Linked DNA regions of Homo sapiens: regions 1 and 3 are each linked to region 2. Evidence: fine-mapped expression QTL. A gene starts in region 2. Each other region holds a variant in brackets. All regions are shown on one strand. Distances are from middle to middle. Region 1 overlaps RAB40A (RAB40A, member RAS oncogene family). Region 2 holds the start of LINC00630 (long intergenic non-protein coding RNA 630). Region 3 overlaps ARMCX5-GPRASP2 (ARMCX5-GPRASP2 readthrough).

What was found. PIP is the estimated chance that this variant, and not a neighbour inherited with it, causes the effect.
Region 1: its variant is the best candidate, but not a certain one, in a credible set for the expression of LINC00630 in lung (GTEx, PIP 0.61).
Region 3: its variant is the best candidate, but not a certain one, in a credible set for the expression of LINC00630 in whole blood (TOPMed, PIP 0.54).

The regions. Positions count from the first base shown.
Region 1 is chrX:103,491,095-103,501,735 of GRCh38, forward strand. RAB40A (RAB40A, member RAS oncogene family) reads right to left here. Exons shown (of 3, transcript NM_080879.3): 3 at 8,036-9,732. The coding sequence starts at 9,662. The coding sequence ends at 8,829. The region is part of intron 5 of LL0XNC01-250H12.3 (a long non-coding RNA gene); the gene reads left to right. Among named protein-coding and RNA genes, the nearest start is that of RAB40A, 23 kb to the right of the region's middle. The variant G/A (reference allele first, on the strand shown) is at 4,887.
Region 2 is chrX:102,764,885-102,775,525 of GRCh38, forward strand. LINC00630 (long intergenic non-protein coding RNA 630) reads left to right here and starts at 4,269. Exons shown (of 12, transcript NR_146589.1): 1 at 4,269-4,457. All of the region lies in intron 8 of ARMCX5-GPRASP2 (ARMCX5-GPRASP2 readthrough), which reads left to right.
Region 3 is chrX:102,624,741-102,635,381 of GRCh38, forward strand. All of the region lies in intron 4 of ARMCX5-GPRASP2 (ARMCX5-GPRASP2 readthrough), which reads left to right. Among named protein-coding and RNA genes, the nearest start is that of GPRASP1, 21 kb to the right of the region's middle. The variant A/G (reference allele first, on the strand shown) is at 5,170.

The sequences.
Region 1 (10,641 bases), 730 kb after region 2:
AGAACATTTTATATTAACATAATGGTTCAAAATACTACTACTAATTTACATTCCTAATGTAACCACAGAACCGTTCAATATGCTTTGACTTTGTAACAAAGTGATGAGTTGTTTTTTAGATGCAGTGGATCCCCAGGTTGCAAGTCATATAACCTGAGCATGCCCAGATGAACCAAGTATGCCTGATTGGTGAACCTGGAACTGGCCAGAACAGAAAATGTCAACCACATGTGGAATCTAAGTATTCAGATTGAGAAATGAGGACCAAAATGAGAAGTGAGTGGTTCCCTGTTTTTTTCCCAGTACAAACTTAAAAGCCAAGGACTTGGCACCACTTCTTTGCATGATCCAATCAGATCATGCCTGGTTGCATTTCCCTATGTCCCCCATAGTTACTCTCTGCCTTCAGACCCCAGCTCGAGGAAACAGATTTGAGTGTTGCTGGTCCTGTCTCCTTGCTGGTCGACCTTGCAATAAAGCTTTTTCTTTCCTCAAAAGCTAGTGCCATAGTATTGGCTTCTATGTGCATTGGTGACCAAGCCCATTGCTCAGTAACACTAACATCACAGTATGAAAGTGCCTGTTTCTACACACATTGAAATAATGGGCATGGTAGCTAATCTGATAGGCAAAAAATTCTCTCTCATCATTGTCTTCATTGTAACTCATTTTATTGCTTACCTACAATTTCATGCTGTGGATGTAACATAATTTTCAGAACTCCATGTTATTCAGAGTGTTCTGATACTCCCTAATGTCAACACTGTGTCGATGGCATCTTTTCAAAGTATGTGCTCCGCTGAAGGGCACAGTTCCGGGCACAGTTCCTGTGGCTGTTTGGACTGGTGAGCCAAATGTGTCCTCTTGGAACTCACCAAACTGTCATAGAAGAATACTAGTATTGTGATAAAAAGAGCCTGGTCCATGTATAAATGTGTGTGTGTGTGTGTGTGTGATTGTGTATGTGCTGGCGTGATTGTGTGTGTGATGACAACCACATTTTCCTCTGCTTCCTTCTTTTCCTTCATGGCTTTGCATCTCATTTGGTCTCCCTTCCTAAATTCAGGCTGAGAACAAAAGTTCTCTGAAAAGGAATTTAGAGGAAAGAGACTTTATTCCAGTGAATAGTTTGCAAATCGGGGAGATGTAGCCTTCAGTATAAAATGAAGGTGTGTTCCAGAGGACAAAGGGAAGGTTTGTCTTTTATGAAGAAAATTCTCACCCAGGTTCCCACTCAGGTCAACTTATGCAAATGAAGGATTCCAACTTGCTTAGTTCTGATTGGTTGACATAGGTGAAAGCTTATTGGTTGGTTCAAGCACCATAAAAAGGAACAGGCAGCTATGAAAGTCCCAAAGTTAAGCAGACTTTCAGGTTTTCTGGGAACTCGAAGTCATGTGTGACCTCTACTCAGCAAATGGCCACTTGGCTCTAATTTGAATTTAGGCCCAGTTAAACACCCAGGATTTATCTTGAAGGACTGGTTCTTTCAGGCTTCACAAGGCCCAGAAGTAAAGGAAGGGAATTATCAGAATAGCAGTTCTTTTTACCATATCCTTATCCACATCCTTCCTTACATTCTGAAGATAAACTTGTTCAAGGGAAATTGTTTGTGCAAACAGTGTGTCCATATGTAGGTTTTTGATAAATATTGCCACACTGACACTCATCAAGGTAGTGCTATTTAGACTCCCTAAGTGAAGTCATGCAAGAAAACACACAGGGGAGTGAAGAAAGTAATAGTAATGACATCCTGTTAGACAGTAAATGCCCTATACTTTGTTGTAGACCTACTCTCAAGCCATTGCCACAGTTGGAACATGTGGAAGTGATCAGATGAAAATCAAACTTTACACCCGAGTAAAACCCGAAGTAACATGTGGGATAGTGTTAGGAGGGGAAAATCCTTGGAGGAACATATGACAAAGAGTCAGCAGGGCTGGGATACAGCTACCGTTTTACATGCATTCACATTTATATAAAAGATGTACATCACAGCCTTTGTATGAAAAAGTTTGGTCACTACTGTGGTACAACAGAAGACCAGGGCAATATCATATTTTTAAACGGCTTTCTTGTAGTATAATTTATGGACAATAAAATGCATGCTTTTGAAGATAGAATTTTGTGATTTTTAGTAAATGTATAGAGTTGTGCAATGATCTTCATAATTGAGGGTTTTAAAATCTTTTATTTTTAATTTTTGTGGGTACATAATAGGCATATATATTTTTGGGGATACATGAGATTTTGGTACAGGTAGGGAATGTGTAATAATCACATCATTAAAAATTAGGTATCCATCCCCTCAAGCATTTATCCTTTGTGTTACAAACAATTCAATTATACTCTTTTAGTTATTTTGAAATGCACACTTAAATTATTATTGACTATTGTCCCCCTGTTGTGCTACCAAGTACTAGGTCTTATTCATTCTTTCTAATTTTTTTATACTCATTAACCATATGCACCTCCCCTCCAGCCTGCCACCATCCTTCCCAGCCTCTAGTAACCATCCTTCTAGTCTCTACCTCCATGAGTTCAATTGCGTTCATTTTTATCTCCCACAAATAAGTGAGAACATGCAATGTTTGTCTTTCTGTGCCTGGCTTATTTTACTTAACATAATGACTTCCAGTTCCATCCATGTTTTTGCAAATGACTGAATCACATTCTTCTTGATGGCTGACTAGTACTCCGTTGTGTATGTGTACCACATTTTCTTTATCCATTCATCTCTTGATGGACACTTAAGTTGCTTCCAAATGTTAGCTATAGTGAACAGTGCTGCAACAAACATGGGAGTGCAGATGTCTCTTTAATATACTGATTTCCTTTCTTTTGGGTATATACCCAGCAGTGGGATTGCGGGTCATATGGAAGTTCAATTTTTAGTTTTTTTGAGGAACCTTCAAAATGTTCTACATAGTGGTTTTACTAACTTACATTCCTACCAACAGTGTACAAGGTTTCCCTTTTCTCCACATCCTTGCCAGCATTTGTTATTGCCTGTCTTTTGGATATAAGCCATTTTAACTGGGGTGAGATGATATCTTGTTGTAGTTTGGATTGGCATTTCTCTGATGATCAATGAAGTTGAGCACCTTTTCATATGCCTGTCTGCCATTTGTATGTCTTCTTTAGAGAAATGTCTATTCAAATCTTTTGCCCACCTTTTAATCAGTTTAGTTATTTTTGCTATAGAGTTGTTTGAGCTCATTATATATTCTGGTTATTAATCCCTTGTCAAATGGGTAGTCTGCAAATATTTTCTCCCATTCTGTGGGTTGTCTCTTCACTTTGTTGATTGTTTCCTTTGCTGTGCAAAAGCTTTTTAACTTGATGTGATTCCATTTGTCCGTTTTTGCTTTGGTTGCCTGTGTTGGGGTATTACTCTAGAAATCTTTGCCCAGACCAATGTCCTGGAGAGTTTCCCCAAAGTCTTGTAGTTTCATAGTTTGAAGTCTTAGATTTAAGCCTTTAACTGATATTGATTTAATTTTTGTATATGGCAAGAAATAGAGGGTCTATTTTCATTCTTCTGCGTATGGATTTCCAGATTTCCCAGCACCACTTATTGAAGAGACTGTCTTTTCCTCAGTATAGGTTCTTTGTTGAAAATGGGTTCACTGTAGGTGTGTGGATTTGTTTCTGGGTTCTTTATTCTGTTCCACTGGTCTATGTGTCTGTTTTTATGCCAGTACCATGCTGTTTTGGTGATATAGCTCTGTAGTATAATTTGAAGTGAGGTATTGTGATTCCTCCAGTTTTGTTCTTTTTGCTCAAGATAGCTTTGGGAATTCTGGGTCTTTTGTGATTCTATATGAATTTTAGGATTGTTCTGTTTCTGTGGAGAATGTCATTGGTATTTTGATAGGGATTGTATTAAATCTGTAGATTGCTTTGAGTAGAATGGACATTTTAACAATATTGATTCTTCCAATCAATGAACATGAAATACTTTTCCATTTTTTGGCGTCATCTTCAATTTCTGTCATCAGTGTTTTATAGCTTTCATTATAGAGGCCTTTCACTTCTTTGGTTAATTCCTGTGTATTTAATTTTATTTATGGCTATTGTAAATGGGATTACTTTTAAATTTATTTTTTAGATTGTTCACTCTTGGCTGGCATATAGAAACACTACTGATTTTTGTATGTTGATTTTGTATCTTGCAACTATACTGAATTTGTTTATGAGTTCTAATCGTTTTTTGATGGAGTCTAGGTTTTTCCAAATATAAGATCATGTCATCTGCAAACAAGGATAATTTGACTTCTTCTTTTCCAGTTTGGATGCCCTTTATTTCTTTCTCTTGTCTGATTGCTGTAGCTGGGACTTCATCGTTGAGTTTTAGACATTTTCATCACCCTAAGATTACCCATCCTGCTTGAATGCAGTTAATCCCTGTGCCCACCCCCAGCCCTAGGCAATCACAGATATGCTTTGTTTCTCTGTGGATTTGCTTGTTTTTGACATTTTATATAAGTGAAATCAAACAATATTTGGTCTTTTGCATCTGGCTTCTTTCACTTTACATAATGTTTTCAAAATCTGTGTTGCAGCATATATCAGTTCCTCATCCATATTTATTGCTGAATATACCACATTTTATCCATGTATCAATTGATGAGCATTTGGGTTGTTTCCACTCTTTGGCTATTTTGAATGATGATCCTGTATACATTCAGGTACAAGTTTTTATGTAGGCATATTTCTTTTGGCTATGTACCTAGGGGTGGAATTGCTGTGTCATATGGTAACTCCCTGTTAACCATTTGAGGTATGGCCAGACTATTTTCATAAGCTTGATTTCATGAGAAGTACAGGCATAACTTGTTTTTCTCATTATTAGACTGAGGTTATGGGTTTTCAGAAGGAATACC[G/A]CAGAGATGAATTGCCCTTTTTATCACACCATATATGGGTTTACATGCTACCCATATGATATCAATGGTGATGTTAACCTTCATCACTTGGTTAAGGTACTGTTTGCCAAATTTCTCCAGTGTGTGGTAACTATTTTACATTCCTATACTCTTTTCTGTAGAAGTAAGTCACTAAGTCAGCCCTGTTCTTAGGAGGTAGAGGACAGAATTAAACTTCACCTCATGAACTGAGGGTTAGCCACATATATTGTTTAGAATTATTTGATTGAGACAATTTGTCTTCTCTGACCCATTTCTTTGTCAATGGAAACACTTAATTTATATCAGTATGGAATCATGTACACTTATCATATAGTTGTGATAGTTTACCAAATGGAAACATTCCAAAAGGAATTCCAGAATTATGATTTGTGTGGTGCAGTAGAAGAATTCTGACCTAATCAGGAGACTGCAAGAGTTCCCTCTATCTACTATTATATTTCACCACCATTATATTACCAAATTATGGCATATTAAACAATCAGACAATGCTTTTAGGCAATATATTTAACCACGACAAATTTTGAAACAACATTTTAATTTCAGGCGATTACATTGCATACTTAGTAATTCCTTCAGAAAGAAATAAAACAATAAACAGAATTTATTGAAGTGATCATAAAAATATTGCTAACATGCAGTAAATCTATTTGCAAAATTCCTTTTATTGAAGCAATAGTATGGGATATGTTGGGGAAATGTTGTACTTCAACTGATAGCACAGTTCCTGTAGCACAGCCTTCACGTTATCTGACTGACTCTTATGGAAGCTATTTTACAATGCTAGCTTTTAGGTAAATATAGCATTGCAATATAATCTTTGTCTATACAAAAGCAACTGAATTTTGTCATTGCGGGGGAAGCTTTGTCTCCATATAGATGTTCATTTTAACACTCTTGATCTATAAATGGGACAAAGGGGTGGCTGTTGGTTTTGATGGGGTTCATTTCAACAGAGGGGTGCGGGAACAAAGCACCATTAGATGAGGAATGAGGACTGAGGTGGAGGGAGGTGCAAAGGGATGTGAGTTGAGTATTGAGAATTCTTCATAGAACTTTGGTTGCAATGGGAGAATATATGTAAAGAGAACAGTAACTAGGGTTGTAGAGAGAGGTCTAGGGTTTTAAATTATGTTTTAAAATTATCAATGATAAGAGGCTCTCTCAGGGTGGAAATATTAAGGAGAAGGAGCCATCTCTTCTTAGGTCTAGAAACTGAGTTTACCACAACCCCCTTACTTCCTTGTTTCTATTCTGGGGAAGTCTAAAACTTAACCAGAGGGATGGTGTCATTTGACTTTAATGCCTGTTAACTATGGGGATGGATAGATGGATGGATGGATGGATGGATGGATGGACAGATGGATGGATGGATGCACGATGTGTCAAACAGGTGCTGGTATTTTATCTTCCAGCACTGAGCTCCTCACACAGGTGACTGAACCCGTGGTTTTGGTGTCTGAGAAGATGCAGCTTCTCCAGTCTCTGCAACTGACGGCAGGAAGATGGGAGCACTCAGCTTCAGTGTTCAGAAGCAGATTTAGGCCAATTGCCATACCTTACGTTCTGGAGGGATCCACCCTGACCTGAGCAGGTGAGGTCACAGAAAGGCTTGCTGTCCATCACAGGGACAGGATTACAGCCTGCTCAGAAGCATGTTGTGGTCCAGCTCTTGTGTCACTTAAAAAGACTCCAGCTCTTCTCTAATATTGAATTCAACTAATATCACAGAGAGATGTTCTTAATCTTCTAGACAAACACACTGCCATCAGTATTCCCCAGAGGCCACAAACACACCCTGGAACCATAATGCCACCAGTAGCTCTAGGAGAACTTGCAGGCTAATGTGCCTGTTGCTCATTGTTTTTAGGCTACATATGAAAATGGACCAGTTTGCAATAAAAATATAATGCAATGATGATTATCAGAGCATTTTGTATACTAGGGAATTTTTTAAGTTATCTGAACATCAAATTAAATATAATGACAATGAAAGAATTTCCACCTGTCATATCATCAAAGTATAAAAAGAAACCATTCAGGATTCCAGTAAGGTGGGCATGCGGGGAAGCCTACCCTGTTTCATATTGGTGGTGGGGATGTCATTTAGTACAACCTCTTTCAAGGTTGATTTGGTAATTTCTATTAAAGACTCTATGCATCCCCGATCTGCATGTGTTTGGGGCCTGCTCCTTCAAGTATTCACCCTCAGCATGGCCCCTGTCCCTCTGAGAGTGCATATTCTTCCTGATACAGGAACTGTCTGCGGACTCGTTTCTAAAGCAATGGCCCAGACACACTCCCTTGTCTACAGAGTAGGAAATTTAGGTCTGACAAGGTTCTCTGTCTTTCATAAGAGAGACAGAACTGGCAGCCTGGCTTCAGAGCTGAAGATACAGATTTCAGTAGTGACCCAGGTCAGCAGGAAAGCAAGATTTGCTTGGTTATGTTGTGATGTGCAGCTCAGCATCACAGTCTGCCTGGGGGCATATAGGATGCTAGTCTCTGCTTTTCCACTTAGTGGCAGGATGCTCCCCAGCCAGGTTGCTTAACCTGCAAACATCCCTGTTTCTTAAGCTACAGGATGGTGTAGAGATTATATCCTCTACCTCCCAGGAATGTTGTGGGAAATTCATGAGATAGAAAAGTACCAGCGTTCAGGAAGGGTGAGTCCCCACAGCTCCGTGAGGCCAGAGATACTGCCCTTCTGCGGGACTTTGTTACAATCACCCTATGACAATGCACAAATAAATGGTCATTCAATTACAAAAGAGTACAAGGACTTATATTTACTCAGTTCATCCAATATCAATTATTATAATAATCAACAGTGTAAATTGGAAAGTAACTACGTGGAAACCACTTCTCCTTCTTTCCCATCTAAGGTCTCAGAAGTGCTTTCCCAGATGTGATCTCATTAACCTCTATATTGATCTGAGAGGTGTTAACCAAAACTGGCCAGCACAGGGGAAATGACTCACCTAAGGCCTTATAATGGGCCTGCCCCGCCATGTTCTATTGCATTGTTTTTCTGCAAAGCCTCATCTTGCGGGGTTACACTATACATATTTTTCCTCTCTTTTCGTTTTACCAAAGAGAAAAATATATACTTTTTTACTGTTAAGAAACATTTTCTCAAATAAGTACGTATTTCATTCCTTACTGAAATGGTTTTTTCTTATTGATCCATTGAAACCATATTGGCTATGTTCAACATAACTAGAGATATCTTTGGTGTTTTCCTCCCTTAGCTTCATATCTTGTAGAACATCTCGTACAAAAAAAGTAGATTTACAGAAAAACATACATATAAATCACGTATTAATCCCCAAATGTAGTAAATAACATAGCAAAAACTTTATCAAATCCATTTCATGCACAAGCTGGACAGATCTGTTATATACAATCTCTATATGCATCTGCAGTGTTTTATAAATTGGTGCTTTGACATTAAAAAGGAGGTTTACAAAAAGGCCCCTCTTGTACTATCGATGACTGAATTATCTCACTATCATTGCTTCTCAAATTTCCTTGAATTTATACTCATCATTGCCATATCACCATTCTAACAAAGGCGGTTATTTTAAGGAAAAAGTTGCAGCGTGATTATGATATAAGTAACATTCAAAATTTCACGTTATCAAGAGTTGAGCAAAGTACTAATTTCCCCTTTATAAACACACGTTTAAAACAAGAGCTTCATGCACATCCAAATAGAAATTCAAAGTCAAACTGTGTAATGTGTTTTTATTGACAGAAGGCATCACACACATTCCCAAGCAGCATGGTTCCCGTGAGAAACTGAAAACTAATTTCTTGAATCTACAATGCGACTTCCATCTTCCAGGTGTAACCAGAGTTTTTCCTGGAGCGATTCCAGCTTGTTTCCTTTTGGTGCCTTCCTTAAGAAATTTTGCAGCTGTTTCTGGTGCAGTTTTTGGGTGGGCTCTGGGGTGGGCAGACGATCTCCACTTTGCAGAGGCTGCTCTTGTGAGTGGAGCTGGTGGTGAGGGAGTAGGAGAGGCCTCGCATCATCCTGGCATTCAGGCCCTTAGCCATGGAGAAGGACTTGAGGTGGCTTCTTAAGGTACTGGGGAGCGGGAGCTTGTCCACCAGATGCACAGGTGTGCAGGACACGATGGTGCGGCAGCAGAGGTCTTGCAAGCTCAGTACCTTGCTCGGCCTCCCGAGCCAATTCATCCTGTGCCGCAGCAGCACTATCCTGGCCAGCTCCGTGAAAGACTCTATGATGTTGAAATTGCACAGAGGGCTGACCTCAAAGAAGGTCACACCCAGGCGCTCGGCGTAGGCCTGGGCCTGCTCCCTGGGCACCTGCCTCTTGAATGCCAGATGTAGGCGATTCCCCACCAGGATTTTAGGGACACCAGGGGCATGTTCCTCAATCTTCTTAATCCATCGATCCATACCCTCGAAAGACCAGCGGTTTGCAATGTCGTAGACCAGGATCACTCCTTGTGCACCACGAGAGTAGGAGCGGAATATGGTACAAAATCTTCCCTGCCCCGACGTATCCCAGAGCTTCAGCTTCACCCGCTGGCCGTCCAGCAGGATGGTGGTCGTCTTGTAGTCGATCCCCCCGAGATGGCTGTACGGGGACTCAGCTGCACCATCCTGCAGGCTCTCCAGGATCTCACTCTTGCCTACGTCCCTGTCGCCCACCAGCAGGAACTTGAGCAGGAAGTCATAGGCCTGGTCGGGGCTGCCCGGGGCGCTCATGGTGCTGGCCCCGCACTCCCGCCTGAGCCAGGCCCGCGGGGTTGTGCGCAGAGGTGGTGCCGGGCCTGTTCTTCTTGAGAAATTAGCATAGAACATAAAAAATGAGATGGGGAAGTCTGTGAAATAAAGCGAAATGAGGTGGTGGCTTTGATGGATTTCTTTTACAAACCCTAGGAAACTGATTCAGCGATTGTTTTCCTTTTTCTTACCCAGCACAGAGTAGTGACACAGCAGTTAATTCATCATGGAAACCTATACATTTCCCTTAAAACTTTCATGTGATCGTTATGGAACCATGCCTTTTGGATTATGTCAAAGGAATCTCCTTTAAAGGAAGGACGGGTATGGGATAGGAAAGGGACTAAGATGTGTTGAGTACTGTACGTACCCTATGCTGTGTATGACGCTTAAAATATTTTGTTCTTTTGCTTTCAGAACAGTTGTCTTTGGTAGCTATAATTGTTTCCATTTTACAAATGAGAAAAGGCAAACTCAGAAATGTTATGTAATTTTTTAAAACATTGCCATTAATATAGAGATCACAGAAATCACAATCCTGAGCCAGTGCTCTCCTCATATAACGCACTACACACCCTTTCTACTCTGTGGCCATGCCGGGTTTAGGAGTAAGTGTGAACTGTCTGTGCATGTGATCCTTGACAAGCCACGCATGTTTACATGGGCACTAATACTTTTCTTGCTGCAGGGGGACATCTCCCATAAATATAAGAGCCAAGATCTCAGAAGAGATATCTAGGACATGGATTTTGCTAGAGTGTCTCATAAATAATATTCACCCAACAAAGATGTGTTGAAATAATGCATGCATCCATCAGTGAAGGGTTTTAGGTTTAACACATGTACAGCTCCTATAACAAAATAACAAAACTGAAAAAATATGTATATGGTTCACAGGTGAAGAAACGCAAATGGCCAGTAATCACAAGAAAATGCATTCTAGCTCACTAATACATTAAAG
Region 2 (10,641 bases):
ATTTGTCCGCTCCAAGCTATGTATGGGCTTCTCGTGGCCCCAACATTTCAATTCAAACAGGATGCAACATAAACACAAATTCGATGATTGGGTTTTCTTTTCAAACTCTAGAATTATTCCAAGACATATTCTAAGGTATAATATGGAACCATTAGCTAAGCATTTTTAATGCACCTGTGAAATACACTATTTAAAACATAATACGATAGGGAAAAATAAAGAAAATCTAATGTACCAATAACAGGATCTCAGAATAAAAAATATTAAAAATCTGTGAAACCTATTTTTGCACAGATCAGGAAAAACAGATGTTTTCAAATTGTTGGATGGAATATAAGAACTATTAAAGAAATTTTAAAGTTCAACTATATAGGAAGCATTAAAAATATTAAATGGTCATGCTCTTTGACAAAACAGTTCCACTTCTGGGAATGTATCCTCCTGATATGGCCTCAAGAGTCTCCTGCTGTAACCACTCGTGTCCACACTGCTCAGGGCTGAGATGACCATTTCCTTAGTTGGCCCAGTGCCTTCATGTCCCAGATCCTGAGTCATCTACCCCTGGATCAAAACAGGAAAATCAAATCTGAATCATGGATGGATGCCCAGACTCGAAGGACCATCCACTAATTCACCACAAACATTGATACAGAGCAATGCTCAGGTCCCAACTCCTGGAGAGATTTGTAGACCTCAGGCCTCATCCCTGTCTGGGAGAAATCTTCCTTCCTCTCCCATCTTTGTGTCCTGAGAGGCCCCCACATCCCTACCAGGTACAAGCAGCCCGGTCCTTTCAACAAATTAAGTTTTCATAAAGGATGAAAGAAAAACTGGCTCCAGAAGGCTTCTGCTGTCAGCCCTCTCACAAACCTCCCCTGAAGTAAGGAGAGGGGGCACCAACCTTACTGCAGGGAGGGTAAGCAAGGAGAACAGAGATTAACCTCCTTAACAGTACATGTCCAGATACATTTGCTAAAGGTCTACCACTAGCAACTCAAGGTGCCCAGGCTGGCAGGTTCTATCCCTGGCTCTGGCAGTGGGCCTGGTGAGTAACCTCCTTGCCATTCAGCTCTGTGTTTAGGAGCACGTGCTTTATAGTCACTGACATCCATGAGGAAGAGAGGATACTGGTACCTCACCAGCACGGCTGTCATGAGATTAAATCCAGACACTAATGTGAAGAAACTGGAGCTGGGCCCAGCTAAACCATCTGCCTTACAAAATAGTAGCTGTCTTTTCCTCCTCCAAGCAGGGAACTCATGTTACTCTGAGCTGCCACCTCAGCCAGGGCCCCTTAAGAGGGCGCACATCGTAGTCACCTTGATGAGTCTTTTCTAAACCCTCAGCTGAAACTCCCTTGTTGGTGGAAAAATAGGACTTTGGCATCAAAGATCATTAATGTCTTAAGTTATAATATGAGCCTTGGAAAACAGATATATCCACTTGGCACCAACAGTATATGTGAGCGTCTGCTGGCTTTTCATTCCACCAACACCAAGTATTACCAACTTTTGTCCTTATTGCCAATCCAATCTGCTCATTTTCCCCAGACCTGTCCCATTGGAAGAATCAGCTCAGATGGTCATTAAACTTAGAGATTCACAGGGTCATCCCCTGCAATTGCCAGATTTAGCAAATAATAAGACGATTTAAAATTTTTATTTTGTTATTTATTTCATTTACTTTTATTTATTTAATTAAAATCCAGTTGGATTTTAATTTTAAATAAACTAATATTGCATGCCACATAAACTAAAAAATATTCCTATTAATCCGGAATTTAAAGTTAACTGAGTTGATTTTAATCTGGTAACTGTACACGTGGAGGGCTCTGTGGAGAGCCAAGATGCTCAGGTCAACAGCCTTAACTGAGCTCCCAGCAGACGCCAACACCAGTCATCATTCATGTGAGTGAGCTCTCTCAGATGTCCCAGATGAGTGGAACCTCCAGATGACTGCAGCCCCAGGTGACAGACATCATATAGAGCAGAAAACATCCAGCTGGGCCCAGTTAACACACAAAATACTGAGAGAAAATAAATGGCTATTAATTAAGGGTGCTTGTTAAGAAGGAACGGATATCTAAAACATTATGGTTTTGGTGAACTTTTCCTCATTTTCTGTGTTGTGTTATCATTGGGTAAGAAAGGAATTTTCTTATCCTTGAAGGCTTAGTGAAACTTGGTTATAATTGTATCATCTGAGTGTTGGCTTACATGTGGGTACAGATTTCTGAACATGTCATCAATTCCTTCTTGAAGGGATTCCCAAGGGCAATTTACATGATATCTATTTTTCATGCTAGTCTTAAAATTTGAAACCTAACTCCTTAAGAAGAATTCCCACTGCAATCATGTGAATTAAGATACTGAGAGGGCATTGCTACAAACCATTCTATGAGGAAACCTGAGAGGTTGTCTTAGTGAGTATTCATTCTGAACAATTTTAGAAGTGTTTCTCAAAGAAAGTGTCCTGAAACACTTTCTCCTGCTATAGTGATAACCCTTGGCAAGGAAGTAACTTTCCTTGGGCACACATAGACAGGGCTCCTTTAGGAGACAGCAGATAGATATACATTGCAGTCCTTGGTCTTTATGACTGTCCCAATGCAGCACTGCTGGGTGGATAAGTCAATTCTAGAACTTACTCATAGTAAGCCCACGTGACAGCAAATCTAAGTCACATTCTCCAATATCACCTTATAAGAGATAAAGTCAATATATGTTTCTCCTTATTCTTTTCCTATGTTTCTCAGTTGGTTTAGAGCTCAGACTAGAAGCAGAAGAGTATTTTGGGGGCCCCTTAAAGAATTAAGCATTGTGAATCAAGAACTATAGGAATAATTGTAGAGTCAGTGAGACACAGTTAGAGGAGTAAACCTGTGGGCCTATTTTAAGTCCCATCCCTGAAGGCAAAGCTGAACAAGTGCCTCCTGAAGGGCAGCTTACTACCAAGAAGTTGAAGGGAGAGGGCTTGGGCAGAGTATCATGTGTCTCCTTCCAGATTCTCCAATCGGATAAGTCATTCCTGCCGTAGAGAGGAGTGAGTGTGTAGAGGCTACATGTATTTTTGTCATGGATGTATTTTCCACATGGAAAAACATACCAGGAATGAAGGATAAGAATTTCCTTAAGGCAGGGCTGGGTGCGGTGGCTCACGCCTGTAATCCCAGCACTTTGGGAGGCCGAGGCGGGTGGATCACGAGGTCAGGAGATCGAGGCCAGCTTGACTAACATGGTGAAACCCTGTCTCTACTAAAAATATAAAAATTAGCTGGGTGTGGTGGTAAGCGCCTGTAATCCCAGCTACTCGGGAGGCTGAGGCAGGAGAATCGCTTGAACCTGGGAGGCAGAGGTTGCAGTGAGCTGAGATTGCGCCGTGCACTCCAACCTGGGCGATAGAGCGAGACTCCGTCTCAAAAAAAAAAAAAAAAAAAAAAATTTCCTTAAGGCAAACTACTGTGTGTTTTAATTGACTGGATTCCTGCCTACTAAATGATTATATTATTCTAGTCCGGCCTCCCTGAAATAACTGTATTATTACTCAAATGACAGTTTTTGTGTTTCTAGATCATTCAGTCACTTGATTATAAACAATCTGTTTTCTGCCACAGAAAACCAACTGCCTAGTATAGTGTGTGAGTTGTACATGTTCCTCCTCAGAGGGCTAGCTCATCTCCCAGAGTCCTAGGACACCTCTCTGGGCTTCTGTGTACTGATGATACTCCTCTAAGGTCACTTTTTTTTTTTTTTTTTTTTGAGAATCTCGGCTCACTGCAAGCTCCGCCTCCCGGGTTCACACCGTTCTACTGCCTCAGTCTCCTGAGTAGCTGGGACTACAGGCGCTCGCCACCACGCCCGGCTAATTTTTTGTATTTTTAGTAGAGATGGGGTTTCACCGTGTTAGTCAGGATGGTGTCGATCTTCTGACCTCGTGATCCTCCCGCCTCGCCCTCCCAAAGTACTGGGATTACAGGCATGAGCCACCGCGCCCGGCCCCCTTAGGTCACTTTTAAAGCAAAATTCCTGACAACATGGACTTCCTTTCCTCTACCATAATGAGTAGAGAGTCTTGAAAATTGCCCGGATCCCAGCCTCTAATTGGTATGTTTTCTCAGGGAGTTATCTGAAGAATGAAGGTGTTTTGCTTTAAGGGATAGGCTGGGGATGGAGGAGCGGGTTGTGCATAGTCATTTTCAGGTGTGGAAGACAAGCCAGTGCTACGCGGTTGCCATAGTAACCTGACGTCATATTAGCGACGGTGACGACTTTTTATTGAGACCAATTTGGCCTGGGGAGAACCGCCTTCAGGCGTTTGGACTCAGTGGAGGTTGTGAGTGCCCAGCAGTGTGGCCTGAATCTCCGTGGGGTTTAGGGAGACGAAAGGACCCCAGATCGACGTCCCCTCGTTCCCACTTTGGGGATCGGCGCTCTGGCTGTTTCGTGAAGGAGAGAGAGGTGGGTCTCTTCTGGCCCCAGTGAGTGTGGTGTCCTGCTCCAGGGTGTCCCGGGGCTACTTTCCCTGTAAAGGCGGGACGCGGGAGGATGAGACAGGTAAAGACCCTCTCTGAGCCCAGTTTCCCACTCTGTAAAATGGAAATAAAAATGCTCACCCACAGGATTGCTGAAACCTTCAGTGATAACATAGGTGCAAGACGATAGCCCTGTGGTTATTGCAGGATCAGGAATGCCTGTATGAAGTCAGGCCTCTTCTTGTTCTGTTTCAAACTTTCTTACAGTATAGACAAGGGAGAAACTTTATGTTTAACATGCATTTATGATAAGTTTATATATATATTTCTGACTGCATAAATAATAACCAGTGATTCCCATCAACACTATCAAATGAATGTTGAAATATAAAGTTAGTTAGAAGGCCTTCCTACCAATTTGAGATTATAATATGCATTCTCCCATATCTGTTGTATAATAAATTTGTTTATGAACTATAACTTATAAAGTGTCAATTAAAAAGTCATATGATGTTTTGATATATTTTATACATTGTAGAATGGCTGAATCAAGCTAATAAACCTATGCATTACCTAATGTACTTTTTTTTGTGGTGAACACTTAAAATCTACCCTTTTAGCAGTTTTCAAGTGTACAATATATTTTTATTAACCATGGTCACTATGATGTACAATAGATCCCTTGAATTTATCCCTCCTCTCTAACTGAAATTTTGTATCCATTGACCAACATCTCCCCAAACCCCTCCCCAGCCTCTGTCTGGTAATTACTGTTCTACTCTCTGCTTCTATGAGTTCAACTTATTTAGATTCCATATACAAGTGAGATTACGTGGTATTTGTCTTGCTGTGCCTGGCTTATTTCACTTAATGTCCTCCAGGTTCATCCATGTTGTCACAAATGACAGGATTTCCTTCTTTTTTCAAAAAGCTGAATAGTACGCCATTGTGTGCATGTATGACATTTTCTTTATTCATCTGTTGGTGGATACTTAGGTTGATTCCATACCCTGGCTATTGTGAATAATGCTGCAGTGAACATGGGAGTACATACATCTGTTTGAGGTACTAATTTCATTTCCTTTGGATATATACTCAGAAGGGGGACTGCTGGATCATTTGGTAATTCTATTTTTAGTTTTTTTCAGGAATGACCATACTGTTTCTGTAATATCTGTATAAATTTACATTCCCAGTATTGTACAAGGGTTCCATTTTTTTCCACATCCTTGTGAACACTTACCATCTTCTGTTTTTTTAAATAATGGCCATCCTAACAAGTGTGAGGTGATATCTTGTTATGGTTTTAATGTGCATTTCCCTGACAATTAGTGATATTGAGAATTTTTTCACATATCTGTTGGCCACTTGTATGTCTTACTTTGAAAAATGTATATTTTATTATATATGGACACATGATTATTGTACATATTTATGGGGGTACACTGTGATATTTCAATATATGTATACAATGTGTAGTGATAAAATCAGGGTAGTTAGCATATCCATCATCTCAAATCTTTATCATTTATATGTGCTGGTAACATTCAACATTTTCTCTTCTAGCTATTTGAAAAAATACATTAAATTATTGTTTGATAATTTAGTATAATGCTATAGAACACTAGAGATTATTCTTCCTATCCAGGGTCTGGAGTATGGGCTAGCCTTCAATGGATGTTAATCTAGTGTCTGGAGTACAGACATGTGCAAAGTGACCTTGGCTTAGGGGCCCGGATCCCAGCCTAGTTCCTCTAATTGGTATGTTTTCTCAGGGAGTTATCTGAAGAGTGAAGGTGTTTTGCTAGGTCTCTATGGCAGTGGCTCTGGTGTCTGAGGCATGGGCAGGCACAGTCAGGCACAGAGCTGGGGTCTGGAGTATGGGTATTTACAGAGTAGTTGTAGCTTGGGGGGGTCAGTGACACATGCAGCATTGGGACAGGTGGCACCTCTGGTCCCAGAGTGGTATAATAGCTGCTGCTTCTTGAGATGAGAAGTGTGTAGCCACTTCTCCCTCTCTGGGGTTCCTTGGGCAGGAATGGCTGTTGGTTATCTCAGTGGCGAAAGATGCCAGTGTCCTCTCCAGAGCAGACTGCTGGGGACCATGGTGATTCCTGCCACATGGCTAATAGCAATAGCCTTTGCCTTTCTTCTTTGCTCCTAGACATCTCCTGGCACCTCAAGTATACTGATCTCACCAGCAATATTTTCTGTGTGGATATTCCCCATTTTTTTTTCTACTGTGTTGCTGCAGATTCTTAAATGGGCCCCTGAGCCCTCCCATGAATACTTTAGTTTGTGGATAGCTGTCTACACTTGTTTTTTTGTGGCAGGGGGTGATGAAGGCTGATATCTCCTACTCTGCCCTCTTGGTCCTTCAGTATCTAGTTTGCCCTATTCTAATGATACCCTGCCATGTCCCCTAAAGGAACCGTATAGGCTTATATATCATTGTTATTATTTTCAAGGACATAACATTTTCAGTTCTGTTGTACCCAGCCTACCCATTCCTCCCACTGTCCTGTCTCCAGACAAATACAGCACTTTTGTCATTATAGATTAGATTTCATTTATTTAAAAATAATCATAGAGGTTTTTTTTTTATTTTTTTTTTTTAGGGATCTGGCTTCTTTCATTCACTCTATGTATTTTTAGATTTGTCCATTTTATTGCCTATTTCAATAGTTTTTTTTTTTTTATTACAGAGTAGCATTACAGTATAGGATATACTACAATTCGTTTTGTCCATTCACTTGCTAATGGATATTTGGGTTGTATTCAATTTAGGGGATCTTGTGTATGAGTCTTTACAGAGAAATGTGCTTTCTTTCTCTAGGGTAAATACTTAGGATTGCAGTGGCTGGAACATGTTATAGATGTAAGACTAACATTGTAAGAAACTGCCAAACTGTTTTCAAAGTGGTTGTACCATTTTTCATTGTCTCAGCAGAGCTTCATCCTCCACAACCTCGTCAGTGCTTGGTATGGTCAGTCTCTAACTTTAGTGATTCTCATGCGGCGATAAAACAAGACGACCCAATGGAGCTTAATTAGGCCACACACAAAAAACATTAACTATTTAAAGGAATAATATTTAATCTACTGGGCTAAAAATTTCAGTTGGGGTAACTTCAGAGCACCGTACAACCTCTGAATGATTAAAACCCGGACTAGACTAGTTATTCATAAAAGTGTGTTATAATTTATTGACCCAAGCAATTTGATCAATAGAACAAGTTACCCTAGGGATAACAGCATGATCATATCTTAGAGTTCATATCAACCATAGGGATTTACAATCCTGATGTGGGATCAGAACATCTCAATAGTATAACAGCTATTTTTTTTTTTTTTTTTTTTGAGACGAAGTCTCGCCCCGTCGCCCAGGCTGGAGTGCAGTGGTGCAATCTCGGCTCACTGCAACCTCTGCCTCCCAGGTTCAAGCGATTCTCTTGCCTCGGCCTCCCGAGTAGCTGGGACTACAGGCGCCCGCCACCTCGCCTGGCTGATTTTTTGAATTTTTAGTAGAGACGGGGTTTCACCGTGTTAGTCAGGATGGTCTGGATCTCCTGACCTTGTGATCCGCCCGCCTCAGCCTCCCAAAGTGCTGGGATTACAGACGTGAGCCACCGCGCCTGGCCAGCAGCTATTAATTGTTTATGTTTTCAGTGACCAAAGTCCTACATGATTTAAGTTCAGGATCTGGGTTGGTTTCCACCTATTTAATATTTCTCCCAATACAAAAAGAGAAGAGAATTATGGCACACAAAAAGCACCCTCAATTCAAAAGATGATATAATCTAGATCTAATTTATTATTATACACTTTGCCCCAAAACAGGGCTTGTTAAGATGGTAGAGCCTGGTAATTGCATAAAACTTGAAATTTTATAATCAGAGGTTCAATTACTCTTCTTTTTAAAATAATTGTTTATTTTATTTTTATTTTTTGTGGGTATACAGTAGGTGTATGTATTTATGGGGTACATGGGACGTTTTGATACAGGCATGTAATGCATATCAATCACATCGTGGAAAATGGGTATCTCCTCAAGAATTTATCCTTTCTGTTACAAAAAAATCCAATTATACTCTTTTAGTTGTTTTAAAATATACAATTAAGTTATTATTGACTATAGTCACCCTGTTGTGCTATCAAATACTAGGTCCGTTTCATTCTATTTTTTGTACTGGTTAACCATCCCCCATCTCTCCCCAACCCTCCCCAATTCCTTTCCCAGCCTCTGGTAACCATCCTTCTACTCTCTATCTCCACAGGTTAAATTGTTTTGATTTTTAGACCCCACAAATAAATAAGAACATGCAAGGTTTCTCCTTCTATGTCTGGCTTACTTCACTTAACATAATGATCGCCAGTTCCATCCATGTTTTTGCAAATGACTGGATCTCATTATTTTTTATGGCTGAGTAGTACTCCATCGTGTATAAGTACCACATTTTCTTTATCCATTCATCTGTTGATGGACACAGGCTTCTTCCAACTCTTGTCTATTGTGAACAGAGTGGCAACAAACATGGGAGTGCAGATGTCTCTTCAATATACTGATTTCCTTTCTTTTGGGTATATATCCAGAGTAGGATTGCTGGATCACATGGGTAGCTCTATTTTCAGTTTTCTGAGGAACCTCCAAACTGTTCTCTACAATGGTTGTAGTAATTTACGTTCCCACCAACAGTGTACGAGGGTTCTTTTTTCTCCACATCTTCACCTGCAATTGTTATTGCCCGTCTTTTGGACATAAGCCATTTTAACTGAGAAGGGATGATATCTCATTGTAGTTTTGATTTGCATTTCTCTGATGATTCATTACGTTGAGCACCTATATATGCCTGTTTGTCATTTGTATGTCTTCCTTTGAGAAATGTCTATTCAGATATATATATATATTTTTTTTTTTTTTTTTTTTTTTAGACGGAGTCTTGCTCTGTCAGCAGGCTGGAGTGCAGTGGCGCAATCTCGGCTCACTGCAACCTCCACCTCCTGGGTTCAAGCGATTCTCCTGCCTCAGCCTCCCGAGTAGCTGGGACTACAGGCGCATGCCACCATGCCCAGCTAATTTTTGTATTTTTAGTAGAGATGGGGTTTCACCATTTTGGCCAGGATGGTCTCGATCTCTTGACCTCGTGATCCACCCACCTTGGCCTCCCAAGGTACTGGGATTACAGGCATGAGCCACCGTGCCCGGCCTGCCCATTTTAAATTCAGATTATTATATTTTTTCCTATAGAACTATTTGAGATACTTATACATCTGGTTATTAATTCCTTGTCAGATGGGTAGTTTGCAAACATTTTTACCCATTCTGTGGTTGTTTCTTAACTTTGTTGATTGTTTCCTCTGCTGTGCAGAAGCCTTTTAACTTGATGTGATGCTATTTGTCCATTTTTGCTCTGGTTGCCTGTGCTTGTGGGGTATTACTCAAGAAATTTTTGCCCAGACTGATGTTCTGGAGAGTTTTCCCAAAGTTTTCTTGTAGTAGTTTTATAGTTTGAGGTCTTAGATTTAATTCTTTAATCCATTTTGATTTGATTTTTGTACATGATGAGAGATAGGGGTCTAGTTTCATTCTTCTGCATATAGGTATCCAGTTTTCCCAGGACCATTTATTGAAGGTACTGTCTTTACAGTATATGTTCTTGGCACCTTTATCAAAAATGATTTCACTGTAGGCGTATGCATTTCTTTCCGGGATCTCTATTCTGTTCCATTCATCTATGTGTCTGTTTTTATGACAGTAGTATGCTGTTTTGGTTACTATAGCTCTGCAGTATAATTTGAAGTCAGGTAATGTGATTCCTCCACTTTTATTCTTATTGCTCAGGATCGCTTTAGCTATTCTGGGTCTTTTGTGGTTCTATATCCCTTTTAGGGTACTTTTTTTCTATTTCTATGAAGATTGTCATTGGTATTTTGATAGGAATTGCATTGAATCTGTAGATTGCTTTGGGTAGTATGGGCATTTTAACAATATTGATTTTTCCAGTGCCTGAACGAGGGATATTTTTCCATCTTCTGGTGTCCCCTTCAATTTATTTCATCAGTCCTTTGTGGTTTTCATTATAGAGGTCTTTCACTTCTTTGGTTAATTCCTAGGTATTTTATTTCGTTTGTGGCTATTGTAAATGGGATTACATTTTTATTTTTTTTTT
Region 3 (10,641 bases), 140 kb before region 2:
AGTTCCACTGCAGAGGCAGTGGCAGAGGGGCTTTCAGTTGCCCCTAAGAGTTCTACCTCCAAGAAACACAGAGCTGCTGCTACTGGGAGTGTTCAGCCAGGGGCTAGATCAGCTGCACTGCTGTCCTGAGGTAGGGGCTCTACTTGTTGGGGAGCAGGGTATCATGGGCTCACAGGGAGGAGAGACCGGCTCCTCTCCGTGTGGCGACTTTGTTGTGCTGTAAGCTTGCGTGAAGCCCTCGAGCTCTTTGTTTCTTTCCCCAACTGAGGGTAGCAGGGGCAGAAACTGCTACTGTGGCAGTGGCAGAGGGGCTGTTGGTTGCCTCCAGGAACCTCTTCCAAAGAAAACTCAGAGCCACTACCAGTGGGGTATGCTCAGCAGTGAGTAGGGCAGCTGTTCTGGAGTTGTGAGCCTGGGGCCCTGCCTGGTGAAGAGAGGGGGATGAAGACGCCTAAGGAAGAGGAACTGGACTCCCTTCCATATGGTGGCTGCAGTGTGCTGGAAGTGCCAATACAACAACTAGGCCCTTTGTTCCTTCCCCGGCCTAAGGGTAGTTAGGGCAGTACCACTGCAGCTGCAGTGGTGGAAGGGTTTTGAATTGACTCTGGGATTTCCTACTTGGAGAAATGCTGAGCCACCTCTAATTGAAGTGCTCAGGTGGGTGCAGGGTAGTTCTGCTGGAGTCCCAGGTTGGGAGGCCTTGCCCAGTGAGAAGTGGGGACAGATACCTGCATGGGGAACAATGTGGCCACTTTTCCATGGAGTAGCTGCACTGTGCTGAGGGTCTGCACCAGTGCCTAGTTACCATGGACTCGTGAGAGCTTGAAGGTAGCAAAGGCAAGGACTGCAAGAGAGCAAAGATGTTGGCTTGCTCCTTCTTTGAGCTCTGTCCCAGAGATCTGCAGAGCTGCCACCAGCATGAGAACCCCAGCGAGGGGGTGGCTGGAGTCCCAGGTTGGGAGGTCCTGCCCAGTGGGAAGAAACGGGATTGGAGACCCACATAGAAAACAGTCTGGCTGCTTTTTTTAGGGTGGCCACACTGTGCTGGGAGTCTGTGCCACACGGTAGTTGCCTGGGACTCTCCAGAACCTGAAGACTGCAAGATTACAAAGATGGCAGCCCACCTGTCTGGGAGGTGAGGAGTTGTTACAGGCCTAAGAGCCCTAGTAGGGGGTAACTAAAGTCCAGACCAGTGTGTCTCAGCCTGTGAGGCTTGCAGACCTTCATTGTTCAGCGCCCTGGATTCAGCACCTTTCTTGGGGTTGTATAAGTGAGGCTTACCTCCCCGCAACCTTTTTTTTTGAGACAGAGTCTAGCTCTGTCCCCCAGGCTGGAGTGTGCAGTGGCACAATCTCGGCTCACTGCAAGCTCCACCTCCTGAGTTCACGCCATTCTCCTGCCTCAGCCTCCTGAGTAGCTGGGACTACAGGTGCCCACCACCATGCCCATCTAATTTTTTGTATTTTTAGTAGAGACAGGGTTTCACCGTGTTAGCCAGGATGGTCTTGATCTCCTGACCTCGTGATCCGCCCACCTTGGCCTCCCAAAGTGCTGGGATTACAGGCGTGAGCCACCGCACCCGGCCTACCTCCCCTTTTACCAGAGCTGCAGCTGCTAATGCCAGGATGCCTGGGGATCCAGGGCTCCTTGGGACTCTGCATATATGTGAGTGTGGCTCTGTCCAGTCTCCACATAGCTCTGTGTATCAGTCCGAAGGCCCTGGTGGAGTGGGCTCACAGGGGGATCTCCTGATCCTAGAGTTCCAAAGATCCTAAGTGTGGATTCCTGAAGTTTCTCACTCACTCACCATTTCCCATGGAGAGGGAACCTCCCAGATGGACAGAGATCCTGTCTTACTCCTCTCTGTTCTTCGTGGGTCGAGTTGTTTCCTTGATGAATTCCAATATGTTCACCTGCATGTTTCAGTTGAAGATGTAGTGTTTAATTGCTACTGTTTCTTCTCTTTGTGAGTGTGGCATACTCTAGCTACTTCTAGTCAGCCATCTTGTCCTTCCCCCTCATTCTTCATAGGGTTTTCAAACCTCTCTGTTTATATTACTCATTTTTTCTTAAATGTTGTCCATTTTTTTCCCACTAGAGCCCTTATCATACTAGTCTGATAGTTCCAAAAATATCTGCCATATCTGAGTCAGGTTCTGATGCTTACTTTGACTCTTGAGACTGTATTTTGCAATTTAACATGGCTTCCAATTTTTTGTTCAAAGCTAGACATGATATATTAGGCAACAGAACTCAGTAAAATAGGCCTTAAGTGTGAGGCTTTATGTTTATCTGTCTAAGAATCAGGCTATATTCAATATTTGTTGTAGCTATAGATGTCAAACTCTAAAATTTCTTCTGCTATCCCTGCTTTTTCCTATTCTGTTGTCTTTGGGTTCCCCGGAGATTACTTTTTATATAAGGTCTGATACTTAACAGTTGTTCCAGCTGTAATTCCCTGTTATTAGACATTAGCCTGATTGATGTAGTGGTAAGCAGTGGGTACAAGGGGTATATATTCTATTGTCTTATGATTAGGTCTTAGTCTTTTAGTGACCTAGTACCCCTGTGCTATGACCTTCACAAGTTTTTCTCAGTTTTTTCTTCCCACTAGGTGATACGGGAATCCTAGATGGGGCTGAATTGGTTATTTTCCTTACCCTGTATCAGGCTAATGGGTACTAGATCTGGGTATTTCCCTTCTTTACAGTCGGATAGGCATTGATAAAACCCAATTCAGTTGGGTTCTGGTAAAATAGTTTCCCTTTAGGGAAGCAGGGATTTTTAAGGAGAACAGAATACTCTGGGCATATTTCAAATGGTTACTCCCCCCTCCACACCCCTGCCCCCACCGCCAACCCCTGTCTTCCTACTAGAAACATGAGGGGATTTTATTTATTTTTATTTTTATTTTTATTATTTTTTTTACCAGTCTTTATATTGAGAACCTGTCAGGGCTCCTGGAGGCAAAACTCACAAAGATTTGGGAGCCTCTCTGAGAGGAACCTCCAGATATTTTAACTGTAAAGCTAGTCCACATTGAGCCTTCCACTACTGGGTCTAGCAGTGGGCGTCTGCTCCTGAGATTCTGATGTCAGTAAGCTGTGGTTTTCAGTAACCACATTTTTTCTCAATTTTGGGGGCAGTGGCTTGTCCTGTGACCTCAATTCTCTGATGGATCTAAGAAGAGCTGTTAATTTTCAGTTTGTTCAGCTTTTTTCTTATACTAACAATGAGAGTAATGACTTCCAATCACTTTACATTTCAGACTGGAAATCAGAAGTCTCTGTTGTATTGATTTTTTGAGTTCTCATTTATGTGACTGAACATTTCTTGTTAGAAGTAATCTTACTTATAAGTTCCTTAACCATAGTGCCATGTAGGAGCCATAATGTCATCCTTAGAAAAAACAAGTTTGAGAACAGCTTTCTTTCTTTGTATTCCTTATCAATGAAAGGTATAACAGAAGCACTGCCCAATATAATTTTAGCTCTTATATTTATGCCTTTCATATATTCGGAGTTAATTTTTATATATGGCATGAGGTAGGAGTCCAAGTTCATTCTTTGACATGTAGCTTTCTAGTTGTTCCAGCCATATTTTTTGAAGATATTCTTTCACATTTTATGGTCTTGGCACCATTGTTGAACTTCAGTTGTCTATAGATGTGTTTATTTCTGGCCATTCAATTCCATTCCATTAATCTACATATCTGTCCTTATGTCTGTACCTCCCTGTTTTGATTATTGTAGCTTTGTAGTATGTTTTAAAATTGGGAATTGTGAGTTCTCCAACTTTTTTTTTTTCAAGATTGTTTTGGCTATTTGAAGCCCCTTGCAATTCTATATGAATTTTAATATCTGCTTTTCCATTTCTGCAAAAAGGGGCTTTGTAATTTTGATAGTGATGACACTTGTCCTTGAAGCTTTAAGCAAGAACTATATAGCCTCTGTTCAGTTTGATTGTGAGGCTTTTTTAAATTTAGCAGGTTACATTGTGAATGATGTAATTTCATAGGCAAAGTCCATTTTTGCCATGTAAGGTAACATATTCGCAGATTCCAGGGATTAGAAAATTGACATGTTGTGGGGGCTGATACATTATTTAGTCTACTGTACTACTTACAGTAAAGGCAGTGGTCATAGAATCAAGCAAGTTATATATGGGTAAATAAATGTGGTAAAATAGGCTATCCATATTTTGCAGAAGCTGAAATTCCAGTGATAAACACAAGGTAGAGACTTTTAAAATTTTACTACTTTCATAGACTCTGTGTATCAGCGGTTTGCAACCACCATATGTGTTAGTTGGAAATAATTCATCATTATTAATCCTTGTGGGGAGAAATTCTGTTAATTAGATGTTTGGGAAATGCTATTATAGTTTGCTGTACAAAGAATACTAGCAGTTATCTCTTACAAAACATTGATAATAATATATTTATTTTCCCATACCTACTTAAAAATTACAAATAGCATTTTCCTAGAATAAAGGGTCTAGGAAGGACACAGGAAAAGAGGGGGCTATTGCTACTTTTCAAAAGACTCAGTAGACATTAGGGAACATATTTAAGCAGTCAGTATATTTGTAGAAAGCTTGTTGAGTTTTTTTTCTATCCATTTTGTTTCTGTATGCCAGTTTTATCACAAAATAATACTTATGAGTTCACCTTTCCTTTCTGAGCAATAAACAAGCTTAAGGTATCTAAGCCTTGAAAATTGGCCTTGGTACTATTCTCTAAATTTGAAGTAATGTCTTTGTTCTTCAACAAGGTCTTACCAGCTATTGTCTTATAGCCTTAGGATTTGGGGCACACAGCAGCAAGTTTAGGGCTGAGTGAGTACGGACTGACTTTGTGATATGCTCAGTATCAATATACCCAGCAATTTCCCAAGTAATTCCCTAAAGAACAGTTCTAGTATACCTTCCTACTCCTAAAAATCAGACTGCTTTTCCTATTTTCCTGTTGTTGTAACAAATTACCATAAATTTGATTGCTTAAAACAACATATATTTATTATGTTACTATTCTAGATGCCAGAAGTTCAAATTTAGTCTTGCTGGGTTTAAGTGAAGGTGTTAGCAGGGCTGGCTCCTTCTGGAGGCTGTGAGAGGAGAATCCGTTTTCTTGCCTTTTTTTCAGCTTCTGCCTGTGTTCCTTGGCTTATA[A/G]TCTCTTTCTCACATCATTTCAGCCTTTAATTTTATTGTCCCACCTCTTTCTGTCTTTGACCTTCTTGCCTCCCTCTTTTAATGACTCTGCTTATGTTGGGACTAACTGCATAATCAAGGATAGCCTTCCCATCTCAAGATCCTTAACTTAATTATATGAGCAGAGTCCCTTTTTGCCATGTAAGGTAACATATTGACAGTTTCCAGGGATTAGAAAATGGAATATTGTGGAGAGGGATACATTACTTAGTCTATTATACAACTTACAGTGAAGGCAGTGGTCACAGAATCAAGCAAGTTATAGATAGGTAAATAAATGTGGTAAAATAGGCTATTCATTGAGTTTTGGGCATTATGTAGATATCTTTAACATTCTTACTTCCAGTTATTGGCATTTTACCATCTATGAATTCACATGGGTATATCATAATAAGGGGAAAATTGATGAGTGTCAAACACTCCAGATTTCCTTACCAAAAGGGAGTTGTGAAATTTCACAGTTCTGTAAATTTTACCTCACAAGTGAATTAAAAAACAACTTGGTAACCTGTCTTGTGGTAGAGTTCCTATAAATATGATAGGAGTTCATTTGAATACTCTCTTTACCATGTTAATCTTCTGTTATGGGCTGAATCCTGTCCACCCCAAAATTCTCATGTTTAAGCACTAATCTCAAGTACTTCCAAATGTGACTATGTTTGGAGACAGGGCCTTTGAAGGGGCAATTAAGTTAATTAGGGTGGGTCCTAATTCAATCTGATTGGTGTCCTTATAAGAACTGGAAATTTGGACACACAGAAATACTGGAGGTGCACATGCACAGAGGAAACACCATGTGACGACACAGCAAGATGGTGGTCATTTGTAAACCAGGGAAGGGAGGCCTCAGGACAAATTAAACCTGCCAAAATCTTGATCTTGGATTTCCAGTCTCTAAAATTATGGGAAAAAAAATTTATGTTGTTTAAGTCACCCAGCCCGTGGTATTTTGTTGTGGCAGCACTAACAAACTAAAACATCCTCAAACATTTATGTATTTGTTTGGCATTTTACATCAGATTGGAAAAAAAGGAAGCCTTGTGTTTATGGTAAAAGTATAGAGTTTCATAGAAGTTTAGACTTTCAAACTTGATAAATCCTATCAAAGCTAGAGCACTTTTCCAGTATTATGTTCAATTCCAGTGTAGCAGTGTGTACATTAGCTTACTACCTGCTTTAGATGGCAAAATAGAAAATTAAATATAGAGAGTACCCAGAAATAAACTCACACATTTATACTTCATTGATTTTTGACAAAGGTTCCAAGAATACACAATGAGGGAAGAACAATCTCTTTAATAAATAGTGTTGGAAAAACTGGATATCCACATGTAGAAGAATGAAATTAGACCCTTATCTTACAACATATATAAAAATCAACTCAAAATGAATTGAGGACTTAAACATTAGACCTGAAACTGTAAAACTACTAGAACAAAAAATAAGAGGAAAACTCCATGACATAGGTCTGGGCATTTATTTTTTGGTTACGAACCCAAAAGCACAGGGAACAAAAGCAAAAATAAACAAGTGGGATTACTTCAAACTAAAAAGCTTCCGCACAGCTAAGGAAACAACAGAGTGAAGAGACAATCTACAGAACAGGAGAGAATATTTGAAAACCATATATTTGTTAAGGGGTTAATATCAAAAATACATAAGGAGCTCAACTCAATAGCAAGAAAACAATAACCTTATTTTTAAAATGGCAAAGGACCTCAATAGACATTTCTCAAAAGAAGACATACAACTGGCCAACAGATATGTCAAAAAATGTTCTACATCACTAATCATCGGGGAAATGCAAGTTAAAACCACAGTGCAGTATCACTCAAACCTGTTAGAATGGCTATTATTGAAAAGATGATAGATAACAAGTGTCGATGAGGATGTGGAGAAAAAAGCACTCTTGTACACTCTAGAAATATAAACTAGTACAGCCATTATGGAAAACTGTATGGAGATTCCTAAAAAAAACTAAGTATAGAACTATCATGTGATCCAGCAATTCCACTTCTTGGTATATGTACAAAACAACTGAAATCAGTATGTAATATATACAAATATATATATATGTATATATATATATGTATATATATATATATAATACTGATTTCAGTTGTTGATATATATATATATATATAACATACTGATTTCAGTTGTTGATATATATATATATATATATCAGGCACAGAAAGACAAATACTCCATGATCTCGCTTATATATAGAATCTGAAAAAGTCAAACTCATAGCAGTAGAAAGTAGAATGGTGGTTACCAGAGGATGGGAGCGAGAACAGGAATGGGGATGTGTTGGTCAAAGGGTACAAAGTTTCACATTGACAGGAGGAGTAAGTTTTTGACATTTATTGCACAGTATTGCAATTATAGTTAATAATTATGAATTGCATATTTCAAAATTGTTAAGAGAGTACATTTCGAATCTTCTCACCAAAAAATGGTATGTGAGGTGATGGCTATGTTAATTAGCCAAATTTATTCCATCATGCATACATATTTCAAAACAATGTATTGTATATGATAAGTGTATACAATTTTGTGAATTACCAAAATAAAAACAAACAAAACCAAAATTAAATTTGAAATGTACATTCAAAGTAAACCTAGAATGAACTGAACTTACTACAAACAAAAATCTCCACCTCTCTCTTTCTCCCCCCATTCCTATTTTAATTGAATTACAGTCAGTAATTTAGGGAAGAGTGGGCAGGTAGCTCTAAAAAAGCAATTTGAATTAAAACTTTTAAAAACCTACTGGGTGAGACACTTGCCAGCCAAAAATATTGTCTCTAACAAAATAATTTGTCTAAATATTTTATGGGGGTGCTTCTTTGTCTGATTGGTCAGTGATAGATGCTTATAGAAGCATAATGTCTCTTCCCAGATTTTAAATATAGTGTAAACTGATATGATTTATATAATCAACAGAAAACCATATGTTCAAGGGGTCTTTATATTTTCAACAAATTGAACAATCTGTTTTGTCCCAAACACTGTTTCTAGGTTCTAGGAATACAGCATAGAATAAAACAAAACATCATCCTCATGGAGCTTACATTTAGGGATGAGGGAAACAGATAATAAGAAATTAAATATATAAATATGTAATATTAAGTGGTTGTGAATGATACCGAGAAAAATAAAACAGGGTATGAGGGTGTTGGAAGGAGGGATACTATTTTAGATAGGATAGTCAGAGAAGTTCATTCTGAGCAAATACCTGAATGAAGTGATGGAGCAAGTCATGAGGTTATCTAACAGATAAATATTCTAGGCTTTGGGAACAACAAATACAGTGGTCCTTAGGTAGGAATGTGTTTGGCTTGCTCAAAAAACAGCAAGAAGGCTAGTGTGGCTGAAATGGAGGAAGCAAGGGGAGAATGGTGAGAGATGATTTTAAAATGGTAGCCAGGGGCCAGATCATGTAAGATATTACAGGCCATGGAAAGAAGTTTGGATTCTAAGTCTTACAGAAAGCCACTAGAAGGTTTTGGCAAGGGGAGCTGGAGAGCTGTGAGATATTATATATATATATACACACACATATATATATATATGTGTGTATATATATATGTGTATATATATATGTGTATATATATATGTGTGTGTATATATATGTGTATATATATATGTGTGTGTGTATATATGTGTGTGTGTATATATATATATATATATATATATGCTGTCTCCATATATATATATGGAGAGAGAGAGAGATAGACAGTCTTGCTCTGTCACCCAGGCTGGAGCACAGTGGCATGGTCACGGCTAAGTGCATGCAACCTCTGCCTCCCAGGTTCAGGCAATTCTTGTGCCTCAGCCTCCCAAGTAACTGGGACTACAGGCATGCACCACCACACACAGCTAATGTTTGTATTTTTAATACAGACGGGGTCTCACCGTGTCTCCCAGGTTGGTCTCAAACTCCTGGCCTCAAGTGATCCACCTGCCTCAGCTTCCCAAAGTGCTAGGATTACAGGTGTGAGCCACCATGCCTGGCCATGACTTATATTTTTAAATAGTAATCCTGGCTACTGTGTAGAGAATGGACTCTAGAGAAACAAGAATTGAGGCAAGAAGGATAACTAGTACCTATAAAACAATTGCAGTGGTCCAGGTAACAGATGATATTGATTTGGAATAAGATCTCAGCTGTGGAAGTGGTGGTAAGTGTCCAGCTTTGAAATATATTTAGTGGGTAGATTCAATGGATGTTGTAGATGAATCAAATATAGAGTAAGAGAAAAAGAGGAATTGATTCTGATGCTGAGCAGCTCAGTGAATACAGATATCACTTATTGCATTTCAGATGCCTTTTAGACATCCATGTCAAGATGGAAAGTAAGCAGTTGGAGATATAAGTTTGGGACTTTGGAGATAGGTCCAGACTAGAGGTAGAAATTTGAGAAACATGAAGGTATAGGTGGTATTTAAAGCCAAGAGGTTGGATGAGATGACTAAGAGATGTAGATAGTGTGAGTAGTAAGAGAGGAAGTCCAAAGATTGAGCTTTGGCAAGGATGCCCTCTCTCACCACTCCAATTCAACATAGTATTAGAAGTCCTATCCAGGGCAATGAGGCAAGAGACAGACATAAAGGGCATCCAAAATAGGAAGAGAGAAAGTCAAACTATCTCTTTTTGCAGACGACATGATTCTATATCTAGAAAACCCCATAGTCTTGGCCCCAAATTTCCTTTAGCTAATAAACAACTTCAGCAAAGTTTCAGGATACAAAATCAATGTATAAAAATCACTAGCATTCCTATACACCAACAACAGCCAAACTGAGAGCCAAATCAGGAAGGCAGTCTCATTTAGAATTGCCACAAAAAGAACAAAATACGTAAGAATACAGCTAACCAGAGAAGTGAAAGATCTCTACAATGAGAACACTGCTCAAAGAAATCAGAGATGACACAAACAAATGGAAAAACATTCCATGCTCATGGATAGGAAGAATCAATATCATTAAAATGGCTATTCTGCCCAAGGCAATTTACAGATTCAGCGTTATTCCTATGAAACTACCAATGGCATGTTTTGCAGAACTAGAAAAAAACTATTTTAAAATTCATATGGAACCAAAAAACAGTCCGAATAGCAATGGCAATCCTAAGCAAGATGAATAAAGCTGGAGGCATCACACTACCTGACTTCAAGCTATACGGGCTACAGTAACCAAAACAGCATGGTACTGGTACAAGAACAGACACATAGACCAATGGAACAAAGTAGGGAGCCCAGAAGTAAGGCTGTACACCTACGACCATCTGATTTTTGACAAACCTGACAAAAACAAGCAATGGGGAAAAGACTCCCTAGTCAATAAATGGTGCTGGGATAACTGGCTAGCCACATGCAGAAAATTGAAGCTGGACCCTTACTTACATCATATACAAAAAATCAACTC